Linked DNA regions of Homo sapiens. The protein of the gene in region 1 purifies or fractionates together with the protein of each later gene. This does not show direct contact. Each region holds a gene or a part of one and is shown in the gene's direction. Other genes may lie near its edges. The genes, in order: GLYATL1 and ELAC2.

Evidence for each region.
Region 2: the proteins of GLYATL1 (region 1) and ELAC2 purify together in Homo sapiens (affinity purification with mass spectrometry; one large-scale study listed by BioGRID and IntAct). This does not show direct contact.

The regions. Positions count from the first base shown.
Region 1 is NC_000011.10:58,937,955-58,942,306, forward strand, and holds the start of GLYATL1 (glycine N-acyltransferase-like protein 1), read left to right. Parts: upstream 1-1,533; 5' UTR 1,534-1,696; intron 1,697-2,204; exon of another isoform or gene 2,205-2,447; intron 2,448-4,352. UniProt on the Homo sapiens protein: Acyltransferase which transfers an acyl group to the N-terminus of glutamine. Can use phenylacetyl-CoA as an acyl donor.
Region 2 is NC_000017.11:13,001,028-13,004,841, reverse strand, and holds part of ELAC2 (zinc phosphodiesterase ELAC protein 2), read left to right. Parts: intron 1-1,267; coding exon 1,268-1,363; intron 1,364-2,262; coding exon 2,263-2,401; intron 2,402-2,482; coding exon 2,483-2,568; intron 2,569-3,814. UniProt on the Homo sapiens protein: Zinc phosphodiesterase, which displays mitochondrial tRNA 3'-processing endonuclease activity. Involved in tRNA maturation, by removing a 3'-trailer from precursor tRNA.

The DNA.
Region 1 (4,352 bases):
AAGAGTTTCAGGGCCTCACAGGGGTTCAAAGGTGGCCAAATCATTGCCACTCTTTGTAGTATGAAGTACACCAACACGTAAAGGTAGGCTAAACATTGATAATATAATAGCTTTAAATGTGTATAAATGTATGCTTACAACCTCAAAAATGCCATGCAATATTATTGTTCTACTTACAAGATCAGTGCAGGAATTATAAAGCATTAATTCAGAGTGGACTCTTGGCAGTGTGTAATTTATGGTGCATGTGTTCTCCATTCTGTCTGTGTTTCTGTACCATTGGGTGATAACACTAGAATCTCAAATTTGGGAACTTTTTTGAAAGTGGGGCCATGCCTAAATGGTATCCTAGTTGTCTCTTCCACCATGACCCCATGATGGACCTGCAAAGTCCCAAAGATGGAAGAACATTCAGGGGTAGCCAGCTGGAGAGACCTAGAATCAGAGATCTCTCACACAGCCTGAAAAGCCCAAAGCAGATGAGCATAACCTCAGCACCTGTGAAACCAGAATTCATTGCTTCCATTCAGAGATCCCATGTTCATGTCAGAATCCAAGCTGCCACGAGTGTTTCATGAAGTCACTTATGACTAATACTGAGTACAATGGGACTGATATCAGAACTAAGCTAGGCCCGGAGAGCCCTGAGGTTGTGACACATAAGGCTAAACCTTTGAGTTTTGATCCACAGAGTAGATACATCAGAGAAGTGGACTTGGAGAATCCCCTGCTGGAGTCCTAGAGAGTAACCACTCTGTCAGATAGCATGTGTTTCTGAGAGGAAAGCACAGGGGTCTAGTTCCAGCCGTATCCCTCTGCACCCCATATGCACGTGCTGAGTTCTAGAGAGACTCCAGAGCTGGTCTGAAAGGCTGATGCAAAGGAGTCTGCTCTGGAACTGAAGTGTTATAAGAAACTGGCAAGCTCAGCAGCCCTACAGATAGGTGAGGAGCCCAGAGATGGGAGAGGAAGCTATTCTCCTGGCCAAGGTCCTGATTCAGTTTGCCAGAATCATAGGCAGACTTGAGGCCGACTGGAGCTAGCACTGGCAGTGGAATTGAAACCTCCCCTGTAGTCCCATAGAGAATTTTTTTTGTATAAACATAGAAATTGACCCTTCTGATCTTAATGCTTGAAACTTTTATTTGTTTTATATGAATTTCATCCTTAGTAAAGGACCCCTACGTCCCTCAAAAAGTATCAAAGAATTGAAACTCACCAGATGATCCCATCCAGACAATGGGACACCAGACCCCTCATAAATTATGATTGCTTCCTTAGGTCGCCTGAGTTCCTGTTTTTCTACACATTGTTACATTTCTTCACTGCTATGAAAACTCATAATTTTAGTTGATCAGCAAGACGGATTTGAGACCGAGCTTGCATCTCCTCTGCTACAGCATCCAACTCAGCCTTCTTCCTTGGCAATTGGTTATATTGATTGGCTTTCTGTGTGGTGAGCTGCAGGACCTAGACCACACCCCTGGTGTTTCAGTAACAGCTTTTGGTTTCCCGACCAGGAACACTTTGGCTCAGTTGCCATGGGCCAGGAGTCTCACAGAACTACTAAGCAGCTGCTTACCCAATTTTGGCTGGAGAGATAAGTACCCTCTGGGGCCACCACAGCTGGCCCCAACCATGGTCCTGATTGCCTTGGAAGAACTGCCTTTGGAATTTCACATCGGCATCCAGATAGGTGACTGTCCTTTGTGGGCCCAGACAGAAAGATCTGCTCCTCTCAGTTTGGGAAATTTTTAAAGGAATTTCCACTTGCGGGTTGAATAAGCCCAACTGACGAAGAGAGGAAAATACCCTGACTGTTTCAGTATGGACATTCTTGGGGGCTTGTTTGTCATTGTGTGTGTGTCCAGGCAAGTGAGTGTCTTTTGTGGGTACTAGATAGTGGGATCAGCTCCTCTCCATTTGAGAAATTCTGAAGGAATTTTGATTTGCAGGTTGATTGAGCCCAACCAATGGAGAGAGGAATCACCCCAACTGTTTCAGTTTGTAGACTTTTGGGGCTTGTTTGATGCTGCAACAGTTGGATTGTTTTAGTGATTGTTTGCAAGTGTCTGATATAGTCATCAGAAATCAGAATTTAATAAACTGACACTCTTTTGTAACACTGTTTGACCCCAGTATAGTTTGGAATCTGGTATTTGCCCTTGAATGGGAAAGTGGGTTGGAGTTCCATGTATCCAGGCTTTTGTGCTGCTGCTGTTGGGCCAAGTTAGTATGTGATATTCTCCTGTGGTGCTGTTTGACCCCAGTGTTCTTTGGAGTCTGGAGAACTTTGGACTTTAAAAATTAAACTGCCACGGAAACTGTTTTACTGAAAATTTTGGTTCACAGCCTTCACTGGATTACCTATCAAGGCTAACAAAGTTCAGCCATGTGAACATGTTTGCAGACTGATGAGTTTCTATTTCAATAGCTAGAGTTCCAAGGTAAAAGCTATTGGATCTTTGGGTGTATGTATGTCTAGATGTGTCTTTGGGTGTATGTATGTCTAGATGTGTTAATGTGTAGGCATATGTATTACGTTAAATGTTGTGACTACCCAATTGGATTATAAATAAAAGAGTGCTCATAGATTAAGTAAACAAGTCCAAAGTATTTTTCATGTTCATGCTACTTAAGTAAATCTTTAGCAAGCTAGCATTAAAATTTTGTAAAATAAAACTAGAAATGTCATCATAGTTGTCAGCATACATTTTTGTCTGGGTTTTGTATTTGTTTCTGCTAGATATTTTGAGGTATGAGAGTTTGGCACAGAAGTTTATAAAGTTGTCACCAGGAGTTGGAGATAAGCCTGGGAAACAGAGACCCCCTCCCCCATCTCTATAAAATAAAAATTAAACAATTAGCCAAGCACAGTGATTCATGCTTGTAGTTCCAGCTACTCAGGAGACTGAGATTGGAGGATTGCTTGAGCCTGAATGATCAAGGCTTCAGTGAGTCTTGATTCAGCCACTGCACTCCAACCTAGGTGAAAGAGCGAGACCCTGTCAAAAAGACAAATAGAGGCAGAGAATGACAATGGGGCACAGAAGCATTGCAGGGAGACTAGGGGAGGAGTAGTAATTTTTTTTATTATTATTACACTTTAAGTTTTAGGGTACATGTGCACAATGTGCAGGTTAGTTACATATGTATACATGTGCCATGCTGGTGTGCTGCACCCATTAACTCGTCATTTAGCATTAGGTATATCTCCTAATGCTATCCCTCCCCCCTCCCCCCACCCCACAACAGTCCCCAGAGTGTGATGTTCCCCTTCCTGTGTCCACGTGTTCTCATTGTTCAATTCCCATCTATGAGTGAGAACATGCGGTGTTTGGTTTTTTGTCCTTGTGATAGTTTACTGAGAATGATGATTTCTAGTTTCATCCATGTCCCTACAAAGGACATGAACTCGTCATTTTTTATGGCTGCATAGTATTCCATGGTGTATATATGTGCCACATTTTCTTAATCCAGTCTATCATTTCTGGACATTTGGGTTGGTTCCAAGTCTTTGCTATTGTGAATAGTGCCGCAATAAACATACGTGTGCATGTGTCTTTATAGCAGCATGATTTATAGCCATCCCATTACTGGGTATATACCCAAAGGGGAGGAGTAGTAATTTTTAATAGGATGGCCAAAGGAGGCCTTATTGAGCAGGTGGCTTTTAGGTGAAGACTTAAAGAAGGTAATAGAGTTTTTATAGGTCTAATAAGAAAACAGAATGCAGGCAGAAGAAAAAGAACAGCCAAGTGCCTGAAGCAGAGAGGCCAAAGAGAGTGAGGTCTAGGACCTGACTGGACAGATGTCAGGGAGGTGACTGGAGTCTAACTTAGAGAACTGTTATAAACAATTTGTACCTCTTTCTCTAAATGAGATTGGGAGTTGCTGCAGGAGTTGCACAAAGACATGACAAAATCTGGCTTTTGTTTTAAAAGGAGCATCCTCATTTGTTATTGACGGAAGACTAAAGGCATTCTCCATCCAGAAAAGACTGCTAAGAACTGTGAAGCATATAAAAGTTTACCCTACTTGGGGCAATGTTTCATGAATGCTGACAGATAACACAAGCTTTCTGGGTCAAAGACAGAGTTTTATGACTCATTCAACAGGGAGAATGATTTTTGTGTTTGTGTCAGTCATCCTTGCTCCACAAGTCCTACAGAGGAAATACAGAAAGGCAGATTAATGTTGCAAGTGCAACAGATGTGTGTTGAAGCCAAGGAACCCTGAATTTAGGTCACCTGGATGTTTTATAATGAACTGCAAGCAAACCTGTCTGAACTTTGCTCCAGAGGGGGACATTATCTTTCTTATACTGATCAGTAAGCAGACCTACCCTCTGC
Region 2 (3,814 bases), on another chromosome or scaffold:
GTTGGTAGTTGGTGGGCTCCGGTGTACACAGCCTCAAAGTGAAATTAGAAAAGATTGAAAACTAGAAACAACTGAGGACTAGAAATTCAACTAGAACTCTTACAGCTCTTATACCAGAAGAAATTCTAGAACTTTTTTGAATTCTAACTAATGCCCCAGATTATCATTTGGATTATTTTGAACTGAATTAATTTTCTTCCATTACCTGCATTGAAACAAATGAGGTGGGTCAGAGTGTGTGAGACTGTCGTGGTCAAGAGTCCGTGTTATGGGATGGACTCACAGCTGGGGAATGTCTTTTGGGCTAACTGCCACTCTGTTGTTGTCCTCTATCGAAGTTAACCAGTTTTGCGGTTCAGCTTTCATTCCAGATGGAATCATCTTTGACCCACCTATCTGAGTTTGAATCTTTTCCCCCACTCTTAATGGTTTACCTGTATTTTTCCTGTTCCTAGTTTGTATCTATCTGTATTTTTTCACTTGTTTTTTTCTACTTACCACAACAAATCCTTTTGGGCTGCTGTACCCCTTCCGAGTCAGAGCGTTAGGAGTTGTTTCATGGTCTGCTTTATTCTCTGTGGGTGAATTTGGATGCGCTGGTAGCCCCGGCTTTGTATTTTAATCCAGTTTTGGGCAGCAAAACCTCTTCAATGAATCAGGTGTCATTTGAGAGCCATGTGTGGATGTGTGATGATGCTGGGATAGATAAAAATAGCTACTGTGTATATTTCTTTTTAAAGGGAACTGGAGGGAAACACATCAGCATGTTAGTAAGTGGTCTGTTGTCCAGGTGGTGAAATTTCAGATGATTTTCATTTCTCGTGCCTGTGTCTCAGGTCCTCTGGAAGGCAGACACCAGGGTGGCATTGGAGGTGCAGGAGGTTTATTCGAGGAAATTTGACTGTGAGAGAGGAAGGAGAGAGGGAGCAGGAGGAGGCAGGGAGAGCCTGGGTCTGGCTTTGCAGGTTGGACCCGTATGAGTGGAGAGGGTAGGAAGGAAGTGCAGTGCTGAGAAAGGATCAGCCAGGCCTACTGGAAAGCCCAGAGCAGAGCTTGCCAGATACAGGAATCCCACGTCCATTGGAAATGGCCCAGCACCGGGGTCTGCCGTGAGCAGCCTGCTGTGAGAGCATGGCCTGGGCGTGGAGGCTGTCAGCTCACTGCAGTGCTGCAGAGGGCCGCACGATACCCCTCCCTGGCTGCGTGGTCCCTGTCTTGGTGTGTCCTGAGTCTGCATCACTTTGTAAAGCCCCACTCTTCTGCCCAGGTACCAAGGAAAGGCAGATGCCCCCGTGGCCTTGGTGGTTCACATGGCCCCAGCATCTGTGCTTGTGGACAGCAGGTACCAGCAGTGGATGGAGAGGTATGGAGCCCAGCCCAGCGGCACTTGGGGTAACTCTTCTGGGCAGTGGTGGATTCCCCTTTCCTCCCCTCGTGCTCTTTCCAGCGCTACCTACCCTTCTGCACCTGCCTAAACTTTCTGTGGGATTCCTGCCTTCCCAGAATTCTAGGCTTCCCAGATCTGTGCTACACTCGTGAAGAAAATGCACCGCTAGGTGGCGCAGTGTCCACACGATTCCATTTATTTTACACCCTCCACACTCTTCAGGGTGTCTGAACAAATACTGCCGTTTGGTTGAGGATTCCATAAGTGAATTCCAAAGAAGAGATTGCAGCTATAAAATGATAGCTTCCATTTACTGAATGCCCACTTTGTGGGAGGCAGTGTGTGAAATACCCTTCATTTCACTTCATTTCCTCTAGGGTCGTCGCCAGCAGCCCTGGGAGGTAGATGTTTAGTCACTGGAAGGCATCTTTTTCCTCGGGGCATCGCTGGCCAGGGCCAGGTGGAGGAGTATGAGTTGAGCTCGGGTGCGGGGTGACCTTGGGCTGCTTTTTGGCCCCTGCCCGTATCTCCCCACATGGCCCGTTTACCTGCCCCTCACTCCATGGCCTGCTCTCCTGCTGTCTCTTTCATTCCTCAGGGTTTGGGTCCCCTATTTGTATGCCCTGGACATCTTCTTTTTCTTGTTTTTCCTCTCACTCTTCCCAGCACACCTGAAAGGCAGCTGAGCTAGGGAACACCGGGCTTTGAGACAGCAGGAGTGGGACCATGTTTGGCCATGTAGTAACACTGCTTGGGGCAAGTCACTGAACTGTTTGAACACCTCATCCTCATTACCACTCCTGAGCTCAGCACCACTCCTCAGGGGGAGCTGCCTCCTAACAGACGCTGCAAATGCCGGGTCTGTTTCTTCACAGGTTTGGGCCTGACACCCAGCACTTGGTCCTGAATGAGAACTGTGCCTCAGTTCACAACCTTCGCAGCCACAAGATTCAAACCCAGCTCAACCTCATCCACCCGGACATCTTCCCCCTGCTCACCAGTTTCCGCTGTAAGGTAGTGTCTCAGACCGGCCCCTTGTCGGCCCAGCTCTCGTCCCCTCTCTTTCTCTCCATGAATGTGTTTTGTCTCTTTCAGAAGGAGGGCCCCACCCTCAGTGTGCCCATGGTTCAGGGTGAATGCCTCCTCAAGTACCAGCTCCGTCCCAGGAGGGAGTGGCAGAGGTCTGTGCCATCTTGAACTAATGGAATCGTCTCAGTCGAGTTGGGAAACATTTCTGTAAATAGCCACATAGTAAATGTTCCAGGAGGCTCTCCAGACCATATGGTCTCTGTTGTAACTATTCAACTCCGCTTTGAGCACAAAAGAAACACGGACAATAAGCTAATGAATGGGCTTGGCTGTGTGCCAGCGTGAATTTATTTAGAAAAGCAGCCTACTCCAGGCTGGGTTGAGGTGGGCGGATTGGGGCCAGTAGTTCTCCTTTTCCAAAATTGCCTTGCATGGGAATAGCAGTGATAGAGCTCGTGTGTTTCACAGTATAGAAAATAGGAAATGTGTGATGAACAAAGTCACCCATAATCCTGTTGCCCAGAGATAATGATTGATAACATTTTGTGTTTCTTGATTTGTGTATGTGGGTTTATATTGTCAGTCTTTTCCTGTATCACTAAACAGTCTTAAGTAACAAGATTTTTATTGGTATTCCAAATAGGGATGTTTACTCATTTGGGATGTTTCCAATTTTTTGTTGTTTTTAATGAATGAAACAATAAATGTCTTATATATAAATCTTTGATGGGAACTCTGTTCCCTTCAAGTCATTCCTAAATGTGGGATTACTGGCCCAGAGTGTGAGACTTGTTAAGGTACTTGATAAATGTAAGATGCCATCTTGAAAGCCTCTTCCAGTACAATCCAACCAGGAAAGTGAACAGCCTTACTGCCCCACATCTTTATTTTAATTAATTAATTTATTTATTTTATTTATTTATTTATTTTTTTGAGACGGAGTTTCACTCTTGTTGCCCAGGCTGGAGTGCAATGGCGTGATCTCAGCTCACTGCAACCTCCGCCTCCCGGGTTCAAGCATTTCTCCTGCCCCAGCCTCCCGAATAGCTGGAATTACAGGCGCCTGCTACCACGCCCGGCTAATTTTTTGTAATTTTAGCAGAGACGGGTTTCACCATGTTGGCAGGCTGGTCTCGAACTCCTGACCTCAGGTGATCCACCCACCTCAGCCTCCCAAAGTGTTGGGATTACAGGCGTGAGCCGTGCCCGGCCTGTTTTAATTTTTAAGGATCTGAACCTTGATTTTAAGTTTCCTGCCCACTCCACAGTATTTGTATTAGAATAGAGCATGTGCTGGATTATGACTGGATGCTGTGTGCTGTTGAGGTTGGGTAGTTGGGGCCCTTTAAGAGACTATACTAGCAAGACTCGGGCCCACAGGCAACATCACGGGGTTGA